Linked DNA regions of Homo sapiens. The protein of the gene in region 3 interacts with the protein of the main gene of each other region in a biochemical or structural test. Each region holds a gene or a part of one and is shown on either strand. Other genes may lie near its edges.

Region 1 (7,023 bases), on a different chromosome or scaffold from region 3:
GAGTAGCTGGGATTACAGGCGTCCACCGCCACGCCCAGCTAATTTTTTGTATTTTTGGTAGAGATGGGGCTTCACCATGTTGGCCAGGCCGGTCTCGAACACCTGATCTCAGGTAGTCCACCAGCCTCAGCCTCCCAGAGTGCTGGGATTACAGGCGTGAGCCACCGCACCCGGCCTACTATCTAGCTTTTGAATGCAGAAATAACAGATTGTTTGCGAATAATCAGTTGTGAACTTTAAAAAAAAATTCTTTTGGTTTAGTCAGAATGTCAGTATTTTCTCCATTTTGACCAGCCATATGTTGGAAACAGCAGTATGTTTAACGAACTCTTAACTTTGTCATGTTGGCGAAACCCTCAAACTATTTTTGCTTTTTAAAGTTGCTGCTTTGGCTGGGCACAGTGGCTCACACCTGTAATCCCAGCACTTTGGGAGGCCGAGGTGGACGGATCACGAGGTCAGGAGATCAAGATCATCCTGGCTAACACGGTGAAACCCCATCTCTACTAAAAAATACAAAAAATTAGCTGGGCATGGTGGCTGGCACCTGTAGTCCCACCTACTCGGGAGGCTGAGGCAGGAGAATGGCGTGAACCCGGGAGGCGGAGCTTGCAGTGAGCAGAGATTGTGCCACTGCACTCCAGCCTGAGCTACAGATCGAGACTCCGTCTCAAAATAAATAAATAAATAATTAAAGTTCCTGCTTCTGGCTGGGTGTGGTGGCTCACACCTGTAATCCCAGCGCTTTGGGAGGCCGAGGCAGGTGGGTCACTGGAGGTCAGGACTTCGAGACCAGCCTGACCAACATGGCGAAACCCCATGTCTACTAAAAATACAAAAATTAACCAGGTGTAGTGGCGTGTGCCAGTAATCCCAGCTACTTGGGAGGCTGAGGCAGGAGAACCACTTGAACCTGAGAGGTAGAGATTTCAGTGAGGCCATGATCACACCACTGCACTCCAGCCTGGGCGACAGTGCGAGACTCCGTCTCAAAAAACAAAAAGTTCTTGCTTTTAATGTATTGTTTCAGGATCCATTTAAATACATAGCTTAAAAAGTTTTTTATCTTTTAATCTGAGTTTTATCACACTGAGATTTTTCAGTTAGTGCATCACTGGGGATTCAGAACCTCTGATTTTACAAACAGAGAAACTGGAGGTTAGGTGACCTGGCTGAAATATTATTAGAATCATGATTAGACTCCTTTTATCCTAGTCCCACATAGTTGCTTCCTTTCTGTTGTAATTTGATATAATAGTGTAATCAATCACCCCTATTTGGAGAAGCTTGCTGGACAGAGATAATGCATATTAATGGTAGACTTTGCTTTTGTATCTGATCTCCCTCACTTTTTGTGTTTCTAAGTTCTCAAAGAAGTCAGATGGACACATTAAAGACCAAAGGCTGGGGGGAAGAGCAAAATCACGGAGTCAAAACAACTCAGTTTGTTCCAAAACAATGTGAGTTCCCAGATTTAGCCTTGTCTTAATATATTGACCTTAGTTCATGCTACAGTGTTCATATGAGGTAGAAAATTGACATTCAAGTGTAGATGGTGTACCAAAATACTGTCAAATCTCACAGCATTGGGCCGGGCGCGGTGGCTTACGCCTGCAATCCCAGCACTTTGGGAGGCCAAGGCAGATGGATCACCTGAGGTCAGGAGTTCAAGACCAGCCTGGCGAACATGGTAAAACCCCATCTCTACTAAAAATACAAAAATTAGCCAGGCATGGTGGCACTTGCCTGTAATCCCAGCTACTCAGGAGGCTGAGGAAGTAGAATTGCCTGAACCTGGGAGGTGGAGGTTGCAGTGAGCCAAGATCACGCCACTGCACTCCAGCCTGGGTGACAGTGAGACTCTGTCTCAAAAAAAAAAAAAAAACCTCACAGCATTGACTGGGGCTTATCTAGGAATTTAGTAGAAAAGCTGTTTCAGGGTGAAGTAGATTCATAACATGGCTCTGGATTATTATTCCTAAGCTGCTAGATAGTAGCAACTATTTTGTGAGCTGAAATTTTATTATATTCCTTATATAACAATTTCCTTATACTTCTCCACTTACTGTCCACTAAATGACAGCTTACCAGATAAGCAGATATCACTCAGTTTATAGTAAAGATTATATTTAAACAGCAAAGATATGTATGCATTTTTTTAGGCAACTTAGTATATAGGGAGGCTAGTGTCTTTGGAATTCACTGTAGCATTTCAATGTAGAGGAATGTCTTGATGTTGTGGAAACTCTGTAAGCTGAAATTCTAACTATATTATTCATCGATGAAGGAAACATTTAATCTTTTCTTTACCATCCTCACAGATAGACTTGTTGAAACAAGGGGACCTCTATGTTCATTGAGAAGTGAAAAGAGGTACGTACATTCAGTTCATTCTACACTTTCTTTTAATATATATTTTCTTACTTTATAAGCTGTATTTATGAGTAAGCAGTTCTGAGGAATTGTGAACTCTCTTGAGTTCTGGTAGTTGGTCAGCATATAGGGTAGATAGGTAGCTAGCTGTTGTGTCAGATGCCCACCCTAGCCTGGTGGGTTGAGGGGGGTGCCCCTTATCTCCCAGGCGTCAGGGGTTGGGAGAAACACATGCTTCTTAGATGGGAGTTTGGTTGGAGTGGGGATGTCTAGTGTCAGTGTCTTTAGGATAGGAACAGTAAAGGCAGCTCTGCATGCTTTAGGATTTTGGGATGATGGTTTATAGCAGAGTTTGTAAACTATGGCCCATGGGCCAAATCTGGTCTACTTGCCTATTTTTGTATAGTAAATTTCTATTGGAACATGCGAATTCATTTACATACTGTCTGGCTGCTTTTAAATTACAGTGGCAGAGTTGCCACGATGTGCCCAAGACCATAAAACCTGCAAAGCCTAAAATACTGTCTGTTCCTTTTCAGAAAAGTTCGTTGACTCCTGGTTTAGAGTATTATGTAAACTCAACACAATTTTTATGTACAAATTACGAAATCTTATTTCTAAAACTAGGATGTACTAGGTTTGAATCATCTAGCAGAAGTCTATCATCTCTCAATTTTTTTCCTTAGGTGTTCAAAGGGGAAAATTACTGATACAGAGACGATGGTCGGAATCAGATTTGAAAATGAAAGTGTAAGTAAAAATCCTAGTTACATTTGATACCTGTTTACTTATGTAACTTATGTTTTGGTGCCCATGAAAAGCAAGAAAAAGTATATATATATAACTTTGATTGTTAATTCTGTTGTTTTTCTTTAAAAAAGCAGCAAGCCAGCCAGTCACAGTGGCTCATGCCTGTAATCCCAGAACTTTAGGAGGCCAAGGCAGAAGGATCACTTGAGCCCAGGAGTTTGAGACCAGCCTGGGCAACATAGTGAGACTGTCTCCACAAAAAAATTTAAAAGTTAGCCAGGCATGGTGGCATGTCTGTAGTCCCAGCTACTTGGGAAGCTAAGGTGGGAGGATTGCTTGAGCCCAGGAGGTCAAGGCTGCAGTGAGCTGTGATCACACCATAGCACTCCAGCCTAGGTGACAGAATGAGACTCTGTCTCAAAAAAAAAAAAAAAAAAAAAGGCAGGAAGCATTGAAAATACACAACTTTTTTCTTCCTTCTGAGTTGTTGGAGTTTTGCCTCTGTACAGTAGCCACCTTTGTTTATGAGAGACCAATCTGCCTCCATACCAACATGTTACCTACATTTTATGGCTTCTTAGGGAGAATTTCTTAAAAATCATACATCTCTGGAAAGAGATGATATGTTCTGGGTTGCTGGCAGAATTCTATTTGTTTACTACAATTGTGGTTATATAGGTGTTCATTCAAATTAAGTGGTACATTAATGTTTTGTGCATTTTCTGTAATATCAAATGACTTTTTTCAAGGATAAACTAGAACCAAGTTGAGTTACTATAAAGATAGTAGGGATTTATTCTGAGTGATGGGATTGTGGGTCATATTTTTTGCTGTTTAAAACTTTCATAATATCTTTTAAACATACTAATTTTAATTGTGATAGGAGAACTGAAAATACTTTTCTTGCTACTTCCAGGGAAGGTGGTGAGTGTTCTGTTTGATGGTTCATAACTGAGGGTCCTGTGAGGCCTAGGTCTGGAGCTTTTTTTGCTCCCCCTTGCAGGGACAGACAGATAGGGTAAATCTACTCACTTGGGGGATTTGCTAATTCTCTTTTCTTTCACATTAGTGGCAGTTTTATATTTCATGTGTAATCTGTGTTTATATTTGCAAGTATCAAACATGTCAGTAGAATTTAGATAATTTTTTGATCAGAGGAGGGGATACCAACTGGAGCCTGACCTATCAGAAGAAGTGTCGGCCCGACTCCGCCTGGGCAGTGGAAGCAATGGCTTACTCAGGAGGAAAGTGTCAATAATTGAGACAAAGGAAAAGAATTGCTCAGGCAAAGAGAGGGACAGAAGAACGGACGATCTCCTTGAACTTACAGAGGTATTGTTCTTTGTATTGATCCTAAAAAGAGGCATGTCTTTAAATAACCTCAGTTATTCTAACTTGAATGTTTTGTTTTGAGGACTTTCTCCAGGCTAGGGGTGAATATATGAAAACATGTCAGGTCCATGGTCTGTTGATTCACTTTGACTACATTGATCTTTAGTGAGGCATGATCATTAGTGGCCTAAGGGATCAGATTGATATTCAGCAAATGGGGAGTCGACACAGTCATCTCATATCTTGGAATACAACAGATTCTTTGTAAATTCTAACCTTCAAATATGTTGAGTTATATAGTATGGGTTTGGCATTAAGAATAAGTTCATTGCATTTTTTTTTTGAAAGTTATTATAGTTTACTAAAATGCCCCCTTTGTTGATTATTGCATTTGAAAATAGTAAAAACTTACAGAACATAAAGAATGAAGGTAGTTAAAATTCTTATTTTAAAGATGTGCCCACATCTTGGCTTCCTCCACAATGTTGCCCTAGTAGGCAAATCTCTTGAATACTTACTGTTATATTGGGCATGTAGGTGGAGAGAGAGATCCATAAAATGGTGAAGCTGTGTGCAGTGGGAAGCAGCATATATTTAGAAGAAAATAATTTCTTTTTTTTGAGACAGAGTTTCGCTCTTGTTGCCCAGGCTGGAGTGCAATGGCGCGATCTTGGCTCACTGCAACCTCTGCATCCTGGGTTCAAGTGATTCTCCTGGCTCAGCCTCCCTAGTAGCTGGGATTACAGGCACCTGCCACCATGCCCAGCTAATTTTTGTATTTTTAGTAGAGACCGGGTTTCACCATGTTGGCTAGGCTGGTCTCGAACTCCTGACCTTAGATGATCTACCCACCTCGGCCTCCCAAAGTGCTGGGATTATAGGCGCAAGCCACTGCCCCCGGCCTAGAGGAAAATAATTTCTATTGGGTTTATAGATTTAGTTTTGTATCTTAAATAATGCATTTATCTGCATAATTCTTTAGTATGATGAAGCCATTTATTCCATAAGGAGTCAATTGCTAGACTGCTGGGTGGTTTCCAAGTTTCTGCCTGTTTGCTTATTCTCTTCATGTCAAAAAGGATGGTGTGACCCCTTAGATGTCCTAATCTTATTTTGATGTTTTATTTATTTATTTATTTTTGAGATAGAGTCTCGCTCTGTTGGCAGGCTGGAGTGCAGTGGCACAATCTCAGCTTACTGCAACCTCTGCCTCCCAGGTTCAAGTGATTCTTCTGCCTCAGCCTCCTGCGTAGCTGGGACTACAGGCGCGTGCCACCACGCCCAGCTAATTTTTGTATTTTTAGTAGAGATGGGGTTTCACCATGCTGGCCAGGCTGGTCTCGAACTCCTGACCTCATGATCCGCCCGTCTTGGCTTCCCAAAGTGCTGGGATTACAGGCGTGAGCCACCACACCCAGCCTTTTTTGATGTTTTAAAAGTTTAAAGGCGAGAATGGGCGTGGTGGCTCACGCCTGTAATCCCAGCACTTTGGGAAGCCAAGATGGGCGGATCATGAAGTCAGGAGTTCGAGACCAGCCTGGCCAGCATGGTGAAACCCCGTCTCTACCAAAAATACAAAAAAATAGCTGGCATGGTGGTGTGCACCTGTAATTCCAGCTAATCAGGAGACTGAGGCATGAAAATTGCTTGAACCTGGGAGGCAGAGGTTGCAGTGAACTGAGATCATGCAGCTGCATGCACTCCAGCCTGGGTGACAAAGTGAGAATCTGTCTCAAAAAAAAAAAAAAAAGAAGGGCCAGGCTGGTGGCTCACACCTGTAATCCCAGCACTTTGGGAGGCCGAGATGGGCAGATCACGAGGTCAGGAGATCGAGACCATCCTGGCTAACACAGTGAAACCCCGTCTCTACTAAAAATACAAAAAATTAGCCGGGCGTGGTGGCGGGCGCCTGTCATCCCAGCTACTCGGGAGGCTGAGGCAGGAGAATGGCGTGACCCCGGGAGGCGGAGCTTGCAGTAAGCCGAGATGGCGCCACTGCACTCCGGCCTGGGAGACTGAGCGAGACTCCGTCTCCAAAAAAAAAAAAAAACGTTTAAAGTGGAAATCAGGAGTTTACTATTATGAAGGGAGCAAAGTCCAGGAAATTAGATGCACCTGGGTTCAAATCTTCTTCTACCTTTTAATAATTATATGACTTTGAATATGTAAAATAAATTCTCTGGGTTTCAATTTTCTTCTCTATAAAATGATAATAATGTCTTCCTCACTAATATGGATCAATGATGTGCTTCAAGCATCTAACACCATGTTTGACTCATAGTGGTTAATACGTAGTAGTAGGAAAATTGAGACTATACTTTAGATGTAAATATTATTATTAAATTATTGTTTCCACAAGCTAATAAGTGAACCAGGATTTGTTGTAAGTATTACTTACAACAATTAAGTAAGGCTGCTTTGTAGTTATAAGTTAAAATATTTTCAGGGCTGGTGCAGTGGCTCATGCCTATAATCTCAGCACTTTGGGAGGCCAAGGCAGGTATTGCTTGAGCCCAGGAGTTTGCAACCAACTTGGGCAATATAATGAGGCCCCATCTCTATCACTAA
Region 2 (7,023 bases), on a different chromosome or scaffold from region 3:
TCTCTCAGAGTTTCTCTGGCTCAGGAATCTGGACATGGCTTTATGGGTGGCCTGCATAGGGTCTCACCAGGCTACAGTCTGCGAGGGATGGCCAGGCTGTTTCCTTTGGAGCTCAGGGTTGTCTTCCAGGCTCATGTGGTTGTTGGCAGAATTTAGTTCCTTATGGTTGTAGGACTGAGGCCCCCCGCAATTTCCTGCTGGCTGTCTCTCAGATTGATAGCTGACTTCTTCAAGGCCAGCATGAGAATTTCTCCTCTAGAAAGATGCAATCCCTCTTTTAAGGTCTTTTACCTGATTAAGTCAGGCCCACCCCAGATAATTGCCCTTTGATGAACTCAAAATCAATTGATTTGAGATGCTAATTACACCAGCAATATTCCACCCCCTTTGCCACATGACATAACCTAATCACAGGAGTGATATCCTATTTCATTCACCGTCCTGCCGATACTGAAGGGGAGGGCATACTATAGGGTATGTACATCAGTCGGGGTCGGGGGCTTGAGGGCCATCTTAGAACGTTGCCTGCCACTCACACTCCACCTCTTCCTCCCATCCTTCCTCCAGCAGCTCCTGGAAGTGTGTGTTAGTAGTCCCTTTTGCATTGCTATAAAGGAGTACCTAAGACTGAGTTATTTATTTATTTTATGTATTTATTTTGAGATGGAGTTTCACTCTTGTTGCTCAGGCTGGAGTGTAGTGGTGTGATCTTGCTCACTGAAACCTCTGCCCCCAGGCTCAAGTGATCCTCCTGCCTCAGCCTCCTGAGTAGCTGGGATTACAGGCGCACGCCACCATGCCCAGCTAATTTTGTATTTTTAGTAGAGACGAGATTTCACCATGTTGGCCAGGCTGGTCTCGAACTCCTGACCTCAGGTGATCCACCCACCTCGGCCTCCCAAAGTGCTGAGATTACAGGTGTGAGCCACTGCGCCCAACCAGACTGAGTAATTTATAAAGAAAAGAGGTTTATTTGGCTCACAGTTCTACAGGTTGTACAAGCATGGCACCAGCATCTGTTTGGCTTTTAGTTAGGCCTTTGGTGAGGAAGGAAGCTTTTACTCATGGCAGAAGGTGAAGCTGGGAGCAGGCATGTCACAGGGTTAGAGAGGGAACAAGAGACAGAGGAGGAAGTGCCAGCCTCCGTTAAACAACCAGTTTGTGCAAGAACTCACCTGTTACCATGGGGAGGGCACCAAGCGGTGCATGGGGAATCCACCCCCACGACACGAACACCTCCCACCCTGCCCCACCTCCAACACTGGGAATCACATTCCAACATGAGATTTGGAGGGGACAAACATCCAGACTGTATCAAAGTATCTGTCTAAAGCATGGGCCCCCTGCTGTTTCTGGCCTCATGTCCCTTAACATGGCCTGCAGGGTCCTAGGTGACTGGGCCCCGCCTGTGCCAGCAGTCTCATCTCATATCATCCATCCCTGGCTCATGCCCTATGCACTCACTGTTCCCCAGACACAGTGGGTGTGGGTGGGATGCCATGCTGGGCATTCTTGCCTAGTGAGTCGTATCCTTCCAGGGCCTTGGATCCCATTGCCATGCCGTATCGGTGTTCCCAAGCATGCCACACTGTTTCTACAGTAACATTGGGTGATGTTGTTTCAGATGTGCATTTTTTCATGGCTGTTTTGACTGTAAGCCCATCTCTTATTACCCCCATTCATCCTCCTGCCAATCTGACCAGCACATAGCAGAGTGCTTGGCATATAGTGGTGTGCCCCATTGATTGAGTGACCTGCAGCTATACCTGAAAGACCCAGATTCCTTGTTCAGATCAGGGGGTGGGGAGACAGTGCAGGAGTGAATGGGAACCTTGTCTCTGTGCACTGAGGCCTGATGCGTGCCTAGTCTGGATGGCGTTAAGTTTCATCCCAAGTGTTCATTCCTGTCTGTTGGAGCAGCTGCCCCGAGCTCTCGAAGGATCTGAGTGCACATCTAGGCTTCTTGATACTGTACAACCCTATTTTTCTCAAAGTTTGGGACTTCCAGGAAGACCCTCCCTTCCCATAAGATATTCCCTGGCTGCAATCCACATCCCTTGAGATGTCCCTGTCTGTTACCAGAATGTGTGATTAGAGCTGTTCCCCTAGGATTGGGGTGGTCCTGAGTTTCCTGTGCTTTTCCACCTTTAGCTGGAAAAGTGGAAAGAACATTGTCCTGGGGGATCGGAAGATCTCAGTCCCAGCTGTGTCTGTGCCCCTAGCTGGTGGAGTTCCTGCCATGTCTAGACCTCAGTTTCCCCATCTGTAAGATGAGTGACCTCTGGGGTCCCCTCCAGCTCCAGATTACTGTGTCTTCAAGTGTCATTTAAACTCCTGGTGACCTCTGGCCTGTAATTTGAGAAGGCCAATTGGACTTAGCACTCTTGGGCATAGGGGAGAGCCTCCTGGGGTTGGTGAGGACTGAGCCCAGGTCCCCGTTTCACCAGAGCTGCCTGCACTAACCCCCTGGCATGTTCCAGAAAGCATCAAAACTGCGAGGAATCTCAACAAAGCCAGTCTACATCCCCGAGGTGGAACTGAACCACAAGCTGATAAAAGGCATCCACCAGAGCACCATAGACCTCAAAAACGAGCTGAAGCAGTGCATCGGGCGGCTCCAGGAGCCCACCCCCAGTTCAGGTGACCTTAGCAGCCCCCTATGCTGCCCCCTGTGGAACCCTGCAACCCGATGGGTCCCCTAAATGTTTTGGGATGGGAGATTGGGGCGTGATCCCGAGCACTGGGGCCTGAGTTTCAGGGCTCCTGAAACATCCGCCCTCTGTCTGGAGGCTGGTGGGGAGTCTGCTTCATCCTGACATTTTAGGATCTTTCCTAAAGCATTTTTGGGGACTTGATGTTAATGCTTGGACTTTCTGGACAGATAGGCTCTTTTGGCCTGTGATCTTGAGGCCAACTTGGATGGGTTTTGAATAAGCTAGGGCTTGTTATTGTGTTTGGTGGGGGAATGGCCCGTTTGGGGGAGAAATCTAGAATTCCTCTTTGACACCCCCTTTTCATCACCCCATATCCAATCCATTGCCAAATTTCACTTCTTTCAATCTCCTGACTCAGTCTGCTGATCCTAGCACTGCTTGCCTGTTCTCCATTGCCATCACCTGTCGCCCCATGACTGTAGCAGCTTCCTAAACCCTCTGCATCTGCCGCTGCAGCCAGAGAGGGATTTTCATGATGCAGAGCTCATGTCCTGGGACCTATTCTGCTTTGCCCTCTCACTAGGCTTCCTATTACTCCCTGATGCAGACCAAACCCTTGACCCTGGTCTAGATGCCAGGTCAAGCCCTGTTGGTCTCTCTCCAGCCCCAAGGCGCCCCCCACTCTCCTCTGGTGCATCTCTCTGCATTCAGTTCCTCAAATATGCAAAACTTCCTGCTACAGGGCCTTTGTGTTTGCTCTTCCCCACTCTCCAGAAGGCTTGAACTCCACCGTCTTCACTAATTAACTCCTCTCACCCTTCAAAGATCAGCAAAACATTACATTTATAGCCAGCCTCCCCTGCCACTGCTCCCACTCCTCAGACTGGGCCCAGGGTCCTTGTCATCCTCTTGGGACTCTTGCATGGGTAGTATCGCATTCTTCCTTGGGATCCCCGTATATCTCCCTCATTAGGTTGTGATCTCTGTGAGGTCAGGGGCTGCGGCTTATTTATTTATTTATTCAGGATCTTGCTCTGTCGCCCAGGCCGGAATGCAATGGCGTGATTATAGTTCACTGTAACCTCAAACTCCTGGGATTAAGTGATCCCTCTGCCTCAGCCTCCCGACTAGCTAGGACTATAGATACACACCATCATGCCCGGCTAATTAAAAAAAAATTTTTTTTTTTTTGAGACGGAGTCTCGCTCTGTCACCCAGGCTGGAGTGCAATGGCCCAATCTCTGCTCACTGCAACCTCTGCCACCCAGGTTCAAGCATTTCTCCTGCCTCAGCCTCCTGAGTAGCTGGGATTACAGGCATGTGCCACCACACCTGGCTAATTTTTGTATTTTTAATAGAGACATGGTTTCACTACTTTGGTCAGGCTAGTCTTGAACTCTCGACCTCAAGTAATCTGCCTGCCTCAGCCTCCCAAAATGCTGGGATTACAGGCGTGAGCCACCGGGCCCAGCCTAAAAAATTTTTTTTGTAGAGCCAGGGTCTCGCTAAGTTGTCCAGACTGATCTTGAGCTCCTGGCTTCAAGTGATGCTCCTGCCTTGGCCTCCCAAATCATTGGGATTACAGGCTTGAGCCACTGTGCCTGGCCTGTCTGATTTTTCTTCAACGCTATTTCCCTAGTGCCTAGCACAGAGCCTGGCCCATAGTAAATCTCTGTTGTGTAGTCCAAGATTGGGCTTGAATCTCAGCTTGGCCTGCCGAGTGTCCTTGCAGAAGGGCTTCTGAAATCGGTGGCGGTGCAGCCCCATTGTGGAAGTGCTGCGTGGGGGCAAAGCTATAGGTGGCTGGTATGTGGGAGGAGGGGAGAGAAAGAATAGTGGGAAAGGAACAAGTGTTGACCCAGCCTCCGCTACATGACCTTGATCTCATTCAGGAGTCACATCAACCATGAGCAAGGTGAAGTCATCCCCATTGTGTGCTCGAAGAAACCAAAGCTCAGAGAAGTCTCAGAGGCCACAGAGCTGGGTGCTGGTGGAAAAAAGACTTGGCCCTTGCTACATTTTAAAAAGTCAGAGAAAAAAGGGAATACACCAAACTGGTTCTTAGATCACCTTGTTTGTAGCTCTTGTAAGCGATGGGATGGGGAAGGTCGGAGGAAATGGCTGTCTGTGTAAACCCTCTGCCTGCCCACCGACCCATGGCAAAGCTGGCTGCTAGGGTCAGTGAGAGGAGCCGCACACACTGAGCCCTTCTTCTCTGACACAGGTGACCCTGGAGAGCATGACCCAGCGTCCACACACAAATCCACACGCCCTGTGAAGAAGGTCTCCAGTAAGTAGCCCCACCCCTGTCTCCATGGCAACAGCATGGCTGTGGCCTCCCCAGGCTCTGGCCAAGTCACTTCCGGCCCATCCCGAGTCACTGTGGGGCCTGGACCTCAGTGGGAAAGAAGTTGGTGGCAGTCCCCACTGCGGGGGGCTGTAGGGCTGTGGCAGAAGCTCCGCTGTCCATCAGCATTGCACGTTTGGGCTGCCTGGAACAGCAAGATGCCTGAGGCTGGCTTGTTTTGAGAAATATTTACTATACCCAAGTCCTTGGGCAGAGCCTTGGGCAAGGAGACTGATGGCGGTCCAGGAAGGGTGGAGGCTAAACCTCCTTGGCATCTCAGCAGTGTTAAGTCTCTGGGTTGTAATGGGCTTCTGCTATTACCATGTTTCTCAACTGTTTTTTTTTTTTTGGTTTCTCACTGTTACCCTCCTCCTGCTCATCCCCAGAACCATTTGAGAAAATTTTTTTCCTAATTACAACCCATGAAATTTTAATACCACCCATCTACTGCATAACTGTTTATGTTTGTGCTTTTACACATAAAAAGAGTAATCTTTTTTACTCCCCCTCCCCCAAGGATCCATTTTTGCCCTCCTAGGGGTACTATCCCCCTCATTGGGCAGGCACCTGCCATTGACATGGGGGTTGAGGAGAAGAGTGGTCCTGTTCTGCAAATGTGGACAATAGTGATATCGAGGCCACAGGATGATTCTGAGTGATGAGGGGACACTGATTGTGAGAGCTCTTTATGAGCCATATACCACTGAGATGTCCATATACCACTGAGATGTCCATATACCACTGAGATGTCCATATACCGCTGACATGTCCATATACCGCTGAGATGTTCATATACTGCTGACATGTCCATATACCGCTGAGATGTCCATATACTGCTGACATGTCCATATACCGCTGACATGTTCATATATCGCTGAGATGTCCATATACCGCTGACATGCCCATATACCGCTGACATGTTCATATACCACTGACATGTCCATATACCACTGAAATGTTAGCTGTCATTGCTTCCCTGAAAAGTTGGTGTGAACCCAGGAGGGCTGGCTGCACACTGCTGGTGTTGGGGGGATGAGAGAGCCAGGGCTTGCTCTTTGTTGTTGTTGCTTGTGCTTAGTGTTCAGGTCACCTGTAGCAGGCAGAGTGTGGTATCGGTCCCCGAATGGAACAGAGTCAGGGCTGGGATGCCTGGTGCAGATGGAGGAGGGAGCCCTTAGCTGGGCCGGAAAACCTCGAAGGGTACTTTGTGTGAAAAGAGGAGTGAAAGAGGAAGTGGAAAGGTACTGTTGACCTGTGTCCTTCCCCAGTCACCTTCCTCTGAAAGCTCCTCCCTTAGTATGAATGAGGTAGGGATGCCGGCCAGCAGGCAGGTGTGTTCCCCAGTGAGGTGAGGTCCTCATGTCACAGCAGAATGACACCCTGGAGAATAAAGTTCGGGAATGAATCAAGGCTCCTCTAGGCTGAAATGGGGAAATAGGGGAGGGGGTATGGAGTAGTCCCAGTGCAGAGAGATGTCTAAGGGTAGGTGATGAGGGAGGTGCCTGTGCCCTAGATTGATGTCACAGCCTGGGCCTCCCAAGATGCTGGTCCACAGGGAGTGGGTGGGAAAGTGGCAGAAGGGGAGGAAATGGGAGAGTGAGCGACTGTGAGTGATGTGACTTCGAAGTAGGAGAAGCGGTAGCAAGGGGGCTTTGTGGTGTGATGGGGGTCTGGGGGAGGGAGAGGGTAATAGGAGAGAGCAGGGCTTATCTGTAATGTCAGGTGTCCTGCAGGTGGGCAGGGATATGATTTCAAAAACGCCCCTTTTTGTTCCAGTGTTGTGGAAGGTGGCAAAGAAGGAAGCTGGGATCTTCTAGCCCACTTGAGTGGACTTTGGACTCACCTGGAGGGCTTGTACATCACAGATTGCTGGGTCTCACCCCCAGCCTTTATGATTCAGTGGCTCTGGCTTGGGGCCCAAGAATTTGCATTTACTATTTTTTAAGAGACAGAGTCTCGCTCTTTTGCCTAGGCTGGAGTGCAGTGGTGCGAACAGAACTCATTGCAGCCTCGAACTCCTGG
Region 3 (7,902 bases):
AGTCTGTACATGTATTACTTTGATAAAAATAAAAACTTAATTAAAAGGTTATGGGGTCCAGTGTAGAAAATTTGGAAAGTACAGAAAAGTATAAAGAAGAAAATATAACCACTCACAATTCCTCCACTCAGAGAAAGCCACTGGGTATATTTTAGAGGAACAAGATTAAATGAATTTGTGAGATTAAATAGAGCTTGAAGATTTAAAACATCACAATTTAGATATAAATGAACAAATAACAGTATAATACCGCATATGTGTAGATATAATTACATACAATATAAGCATATATACTATGATTCCATGCATTTATATGTGTATTAGAAAGTAGTCTCAGCTGGACACAGTGGCTCATGCCTGTAATCCCAGCACTTTCAGAGGCCAAGGTGGGAGGATTACTTGAATCCAGGAGCCTAGCATGGGCATCATAGGGAGACCCCATCTCTTCAAAAAATTTAAAAATTAGCCAGGTGCGGCAGTGCATGTCTGTAGACCAGCTACTTGGAAAGCTGAGGCAGGAGGATCACTTGAGCCTGGGAGGTTGAGCCTGCAGTGAGCCATGACTGTGTCACTGCACTCCAGCCTGGGCAACCCAGTGAGACTCTTTTAAAATACACACACACGGCCGGGCACGGTGGCTCACGCCTGTAATCCCAGCACTTTGGGAGGCTGAGGCGGGTGGATCATTTGAGGTCAGGAGTTTGAAACCAGCCTGGCCAATATGGCGAAATCCCCTCTCTACTAAAACTGCAAAAATTAGCCAAGCATAGTGGTGCACGCCTGTAATCCCAGCTACTCGGGAGGCTGAGGTAGGAGAATCTCTTGAAGCCGGGAGGTGGAGGTTGCAGTGACCCAAGATCACATCAGTGCACTCCAGCCTGGGTGACAGAGCGAGATTCCGTCTCAAAAACAAAACAAAACAAAACAAAACACACACACTCATGCACACTAGTCTCAAGGCCAGGTGCAGTGGCTCACACCTGTAATCCCAGCACTTTGGGAAGCTGAGGCAGGCAGATTGCTTGAGCTCAGGAGGTCAAGGCTGCAGTGAGCTGTTATCGCACCACTGCACTATAGCCTAGGTGACAGAGCGAGACCCTGTCTCAGAAAGAAAAAAAAAAAGATAGTCTGGAGGAATACCCACCAAAATATTACTTGGTGGTTATGTTACCAGGGTGGGACCAGGCTAAGGCAAGCAAGGTTCCTAGGACACTCAATGTAAGGCTGCCTTCACTCTCAGGGTTCTGCAAATGCAGGAGTAGAACCTGAAAGTGAGTGTCTTCTTAAATGTTATGCCCTCACATGCTTCACCCTAGTCTTGGCCTTGGTTGGGACCTACGGCTGCTGGATTATGGGCACTTTCTCCTTCTTACTTTTTACTTGGATATATGTTCAAGTTCCTTGCTACTCTAAGTGTAGTACATGGACCAGCAGTGATAGCATCATCTGGGGGCTTGTTTGAAATGCAGTATCTCAGCTCTGCCCCAGACTTTAGCCAGATCTGCTCTTTAACCAAATCCCAGGAGATTTATGTGCATGTTACAGTTTGAGAAGCACTGGGCTAGCAGGCACCCAAGCATAGTTCCTGTCTTCTTATGAAAGGAATATTCAGAGGCAATTGATGCCACTGCCCCAATAGGTGGGGCACACACTGCTAAGGGGTAAGATGCCTGTTTTTAAAAAGAGTTGTGGTTCTTTCCAAGTGGCTCAGTTTTGGCTGGTGAAGCAATCATAGGTCAGCTTGATAAAGGAGAGGCAGGTGATTCCCTTGGAACAAAGAACGGGTGAGTTGAGCAAGTGAGCAAGACACTCACCTTGGGCACAAAAAACTCAGTAATCAAGATAAAGACCATTTTAATGCAAGGTTTTTCAAAAATCAAAATTAATGCAAAAAATCCACGATGAATAAAACATCGAAATTTAAAATAAAGCTCGACTCACTGTGTAAGGTGGTTCATGCCTGTAATCCCAGCACATTGGGAGGCTGAGGTAGGAGGATCACCTGAGAACAGGAGTTTGAGACCAGCCTGGGCAACATAGTGAGGCCTGACTCTACAAAAAACTAGCCGATCAAGGTCGTACGCACCTTTGTTCCCAGCTACTCACAAGGCTGAGGTAGGAGGATTGCTTGAGCCCAGGAGTTCGAGGCTGCAGTGAGCTATGATTGTGCCGCTGCTCTCCAGCCTGGGTGACCCCAGCCTGGGTGACCCCGTCTCAAAAAACAAACAAACAAACAAACAAACACGGGGATGTGACAACATCAAAATTATGCAGGTCAGATCTTTCTAATTTCCAACTCACAGTCTGGGATGGGTATAAGTGATTTCAGTTTTGGTGATAGGAAAGGGATTCAGATGCTCAAGTGGCCAAAAAGAATGACAAACGTCCATTATAGTTATTGGAATCTTGGTAAAATGTCACCTTTTGGGTTCCTGCAGAAAGAGCAGCATAATTTGGCTGGGCTGTTTTGAGGAAAACTTTAGTGCTTATTTGAGTTGTGGTACAGATAAATTAATATAGGAGGAAAGGGCCGGGTGCGGTGGCTCACGCCTGTAATCCCAGCACTTTGGGAGGCGGAGGTGGGCAGATCACGAGGTCAAGAGATAGACAGCATCCTGGCCAACATGGTGAAACCCCATCTCTAGTAAAAATACAAAAAAAAAAGGCCGGGCGCGGTGGCTCACGCCGGTAATCCCAGCACTTTGGGAGGCCGAGGCGGGCAGATCACAAAGTCAGGAGATCGAGACCATCCTGGCTAACATGGTGAAACCCCGTCTCTACTAAAAATACAAAAAATTAGCCGGGCTTGGTGGCGGGCGCCTGTAGTCCCAGCTACTCGGGAGGCTGAGGCAGGAGAATGGTGTGAACCCGGGAGGCGGAGCGTGCAGTGAGCAGAGATCGCGCCACTGCACTTCAGCCTGGGCAACAGAGCAAGACTCCGTCTCAAAAAAAAAAAAGAAGAAGGAGAAGGAGAAGGAGAAGGAGAAGAAGAAGAAGAAGAAGAAGAAGAAGAAGAAGAAGAAGAAGAAGAAGAGGAAGAAGAAGAAGAAGAAAAGATTAGCTGGGCATGGTGGCACGTGCCTGTAGTCCTGTAGTCCCAGCTACTAAGGAGGCTGAGGCAGGAGAATCACTTGAGCCTGGGAGGTGGAGGTTGCAGTGAGCCGAGATCGTGCCACTACACTCCAGCCTAGTGATAGAGCGACACTCCGTCTCAAAACAAAACAAAAACAACCCCCCTCCCCCCACCAAAAAAAACATATATATAAGAGAGAAGAGAGAGTGAAATTCCTCTTCTGAAACTGGGAAAGTTCCAGGAGGAAGATAAGGTTTGAGCTGGGCTTTGGAAGGAGGAAAGAGAAGAGGAGAAAGAACATTGGATTTGCAGACAGAAAATGGGGTTCCCCTCTTGGCTACTTGGCTTACTAGCCGTGGGAATTCAGACAAGTCACTTAGCTTCTCTAAGTATCAATTACTTCATCTGCAAAACCTCGTGTGTCACTGCCAAAGTGAGGACCAAGTGAGATTAAATAAGTGAAAGTTGTTTGTAAACTGTAAAGCATTATGCAGACATCTTGGACTATTATTAAAAGCTTAAGAATGGGTAGGACTTTGACAACAGGCATTTGGGGAGAAGGGCCTCTGGGCAGAGAGAATGAAAGGCGAAGTGATTGATTGATATGTATGTAGTGACTGATTGAGACAGGGTCTCCCTCCGTTGCCCAGGCTGGGGTGCAGTGTCATGATCATGGCTCATAGCAGCCCTGAACTCCTGGACTCAATCAATCCTCCTGCTTCAGCCTCCACAGTAGGTGGGACCACAGGCACTTGCCACCATGCTGGCCAATTACAAAAATTTTTTTAGAGGTGGATTCTCCTTATGTTGCCCAGACTGGTCTCAAACTCCTAGGCTCAAGCTATCCTCCCACCTGGACCTCCCAAAGTGCTGGAATTACAGGCAGGAGCCACCGCGCCTGGCGAGAAGTGATTTTTGTTAAGAGGCTAGACAAAAGGAAACTGGGCTTTGAAGATGAAATGAATGAATAACTCGCAGCACATGCTTCCTTCTCTCCCTAGATGGCCCCTTTGCAGGCAGTCAGGGACCATGTCTCGTTCATCTTAGTTTCCAGGAGCTTGACACTTTGTAGTTGAGGGCTTTGTGCTCCATTCTCAAGAAACGACAAGTGCCCAAAGGCTATTAAACTTGGGACCTCTTTACCCCCAAAAGTAGTACAGAATAAGAGTTGGGTGGCCTTGAAAAGCACCTTCTTCTGTCCACACTGGGTCGCCCGCTGGGTAACCTCCCAAACCTATGAGAGCTCACCTTATCCCAGGTAAGGTCCTTACTTTAAGGAAGAGGAGGGGGGCCAAGGGCTCCAGCAGACCTGTTCTACACGGGGTAGGGGGGTGGGTGGGAACTATACAGGTGACAACATTTCATAGAACTACACACACACTCACACACACGCACATGACTGCATACCCAACAGGTTAAATCCGAGTGTGGTCTGTAATGAAGTTAATTGTATTGGTTTAGTTAATTGTATTGGTTTAGTTAATTGTATTGTGCGAATGTCAATTTCCTGGCTTTGAGAATGTTGTATCTTAAGAAAAATGTTGAGGTAAGCTGGGTGGGTGATGGTATAGGGAACCTGTATGTATTAATTTTGCAACTTCTTGTGAGTCCATAATTATTTCGAAGTAAAAAGTAAAACAAAAGAAAACAATGGAACTTCCCCCTCAGCCCAGCCTACTTCGAGACCGCCTCACACTCACACATCTGGCCTCACCCAGGTCCAGCCAGCCCTAGGCAGGGGGTGAAGGGAGGGGCAGGGCGGGGCCACGCAAGCGCAGTTCCGCAATCCCGGCCGCTCCGGGAAGTCGCGCATGCGTAGTCTCGGCCCCGGGCTGCCGCGCCAGCCCGTCTCCGCGGCGGGGGACCGGGCTGCCTTGGCCCCTCAGCGCTCGCGTCTTTTCCGGCAGTTGGAACGCTTCCTGTTGTCCTCACCCGTAACCGCCTGTTGCCCCCTGTCTCAGAGTCCCTCACGCGTCCCCTCCCGTCTTTGGCTCGTTGGCTGCCGCCGCCGGGGCTTCGCCAGCCTTCAAGTCGAGACTACTGGCCGAAGGGGCGTCTGCGGCTCTCCGCCGTCCCCAGCCCTGCCTCTCCCTGGGCTCTGGTGAGTTGCTTGCTGCCGCCGTCTTCACTCCATCCCGGGGTTTTTCCTTTATCTCCTCCTTCCCCAACCTCCGACTCCTTCTTGGGCTTTCTCCTGCTCGCCGGCGCCCTCTTTCAAGCCCTAACCTCTCAGCCTCTTGGCCTCTCTCCGCCCCTCTCCTTAACCCCCTTCTTCCCCCGTCTCCAGATGCCCCTTGTTGGCCCTCTCCACATTTTTCCAGTCCCAGCCTTTCCACCCCATCCTTTATCTTTCTCCTTTTGCAGTTGGAGCGGGAGCCAGGCTTTCCTTTCCATGTTGCCACCTTTGTCTGCTCCCTGCCACCAGTCAGTCCCTCAGGGATCTCGGTCATCACCGGTTTTTATCTCCTTTTCCTTCTTCTGGGGTCTGTGAACTGTGGTCTGAGGCAGAGATGTCGAAAGCCCCCCTTGGGGTGTGGTATCTTTGAGTCGGCTCCTTTCTCCGTTAGTCTTAGGATACTGGGCTTCAGATAAGCTTCAAATCACAGGAAAAGGCAGGGAAAATTCTTAAGAAGAGAGTGGAAAAGCAACAGCCAGAGGAAAAAGTCGGTAAGGGCTTAGAGGAAAGTCTGTGTCAGAAAGCGGGCAGAACGGCCGGCAGAGAGACCAGATCTCTCAGTTCATTCTGAAACGACTAAAAGACTCGGAGAGAAACTTGTTCTGTTTGAAATGCACCGAGGAGGGTTGGAGTGAAGTAGACCCTGAGTGTCTCCACCCTTTGAGCTCACCCTGCCTCTGAATTAGCCAGGCAATATATTTGGTTTCCCTAAACATAAAACAACCACCACCTCGATAACAGGCTCTCCTCCCCACCCTAAACGTTAGATACCAGCTTCCTCCTAAGAGGAGAGAACGCTATAGCAAACCATTTCATGTCCCAGCCCTATCCCCCATCACACATAAACTCCTAGGAATGGACATCAAAAATGAGTATATTTCCTAGTTAATCTTTCTTAAGGTGCTAAGTGCATAGCACTGTGCATGAAATGGGGGAAGAATATTAAAACAAGTATAAGACATGGTGCTTGCTTTCTAGTGTAGGTAGAGATTACAGTTTAGTAGGATTTACAGTTCAGTGGGAGAGATTAGACATGCGACTTAAGCAATAATCTTAGCTCCAATGTTGAATCGTCCAAATGAAAGATAATGGATTGTCAGTCGCAAAGAAATAAAGTCCATATTGTTGAGAGAGGGTTGTTTATAGTGATCACAGAGTACCATTGTAAAGTCAGTCAGTTAGCCAGGCATAACCATATAGATTGAATCACATAATGGTTTTCATTTGACTTCCTTTTGAGTTTGCAGGCCTTACACCTGACTTTTATGAGGATCAGTTCCTTTTGTTAATTTTTTAAAACTTTGAAGAATTCCTCAGCCACCTATTATTTCCTAATTCTTCAGAGTTGAAGAATGAAACAAATGGGGCAAAGGCCTCCAATGGCTTCTAGGTCAGGGCAGGAAGGCTTGAATTGTGGAAAGCCTGATGGATAGTCCTGTCTTAAGAAAAGTTGGTTGACCCAGTAAATCTATGAATTGCTATAGGGCAATATTAATTACATCTTTTGATTAAAGGATATTAGAATTAGGCTAAATTTTTTATATTACAATAGAGGAAGTGGAGGAGGGTTTAAAGAAAGGTCAAAGGGAAGGAGAGTGCAGTCTTTATCATTATATTAGAAACTCTAAAAGTTGAAAAACACTCTGCTTAAGAATTTGTTGGTCTAATATTTGAGCATCTTTGAGTTCATTTAATGTCCTTTTGATCTTTTTAAAAGTTTAGGTAGTAATGCAAGCCAGCTACTTAAATTAGTCAAAGCATTTTTGATATATCCATCAGTGTAAATGTAGTCTTTATTCTTTTTTTTTTTTTTTTTTTTTTTTTTCCAGACGGAGTCTCACTCACCCAGGCTAGAGTGCAGTGGTGTGATCTTGGCTCACTGCAACCTGTGCCTCCAGGGTTCAAGCGATTCTCCTGCCTCAGCCTCCCAAGTAGCTGGGATTACAGGTGCCCACCACCACACCCGGCTAATTTTTTTTGTATTTTTAGTAGAGACAGGCTTTCACCATGTTGGCCAAGCTAGTCTCCAACTCCTGACTTCAGGTGATCCACCTGCCTCAGCCTCCCAAAGTTCTGGGATTACAGGCATGAGCCACCGTGTCCGGCCATCTTTATTCTTTAGCTTTGTTGACAACTAAAAATCATTAACTTACTCAACTGCCTGTTATATGGAAGGCACTGTTTGCCTTAGGGTTAAATACTAGCAGATTGTTGTGTTGTGTTTGTTGTTGTTGTTGTTGTTTTTAAGACAGAGTCTTGCTCTGTCCCAGGCTGGCGTGCAGTGGCACAAGCCAAACTCACTGAAACCTCTGCCTCTCCAGCTCAAGCAATCCTCCCACCTCAGCCTCCTGAGTAGCTGGGACTACAGGTGTGTGCTACCACACCTGGCCAATTTTTTGTATTTTTTTGTAGCAACGGGGGTTTTGCCATGTTGCACAGGCTGGTTTCAAGCAATCTCCTACCTCTCCCTCCCAAAGTGCTGAGATTACAGGGGTGCACCAGTGCCCTGGCAAATTGTTACATTTTTATGTTGAAGTAATTTCAGTTGTTAAAATGTAACTACATATATGCAATTTCTTCAGGAATTTTCAGACAAGGAAGTACAAAACTCTCACTTGCTTTTGACATGTTTTTACATCTGGTTTTTAAATTT

Evidence for each region. The genes of interacting proteins can lie anywhere in the genome.
Region 1: of the proteins of STK38 (region 3) and SENP2, one has a biochemical effect on the other in vitro, tested with the Homo sapiens proteins (one study listed by BioGRID).
Region 2: the proteins of STK38 (region 3) and TRIM25 form a complex in vitro, tested with the Homo sapiens proteins (one study listed by BioGRID).

The regions. Positions count from the first base shown.
Region 1 is NC_000003.12:185,610,286-185,617,308, forward strand, and holds part of SENP2 (sentrin-specific protease 2), read left to right. Parts: intron 1-1,365; coding exon 1,366-1,460; intron 1,461-2,321; coding exon 2,322-2,373; intron 2,374-3,059; coding exon 3,060-3,123; intron 3,124-4,278; coding exon 4,279-4,455; intron 4,456-7,023. UniProt on the Homo sapiens protein: Protease that catalyzes two essential functions in the SUMO pathway.
Region 2 is NC_000017.11:56,897,036-56,904,058, reverse strand, and holds part of TRIM25 (E3 ubiquitin/ISG15 ligase TRIM25), read left to right. Parts: intron 1-2,480; coding exon 2,481-2,640; intron 2,641-4,878; coding exon 4,879-4,944; intron 4,945-7,023.
Region 3 is NC_000006.12:36,544,462-36,552,363, reverse strand, and holds the start of STK38 (serine/threonine-protein kinase 38), read left to right. Parts: upstream 1-4,884; 5' UTR 4,885-5,174; intron 5,175-7,078; exon of another isoform or gene 7,079-7,902. UniProt on the Homo sapiens protein: Serine/threonine-protein kinase that acts as a negative regulator of MAP3K1/2 signaling. Converts MAP3K2 from its phosphorylated form to its non-phosphorylated form and inhibits autophosphorylation of MAP3K2.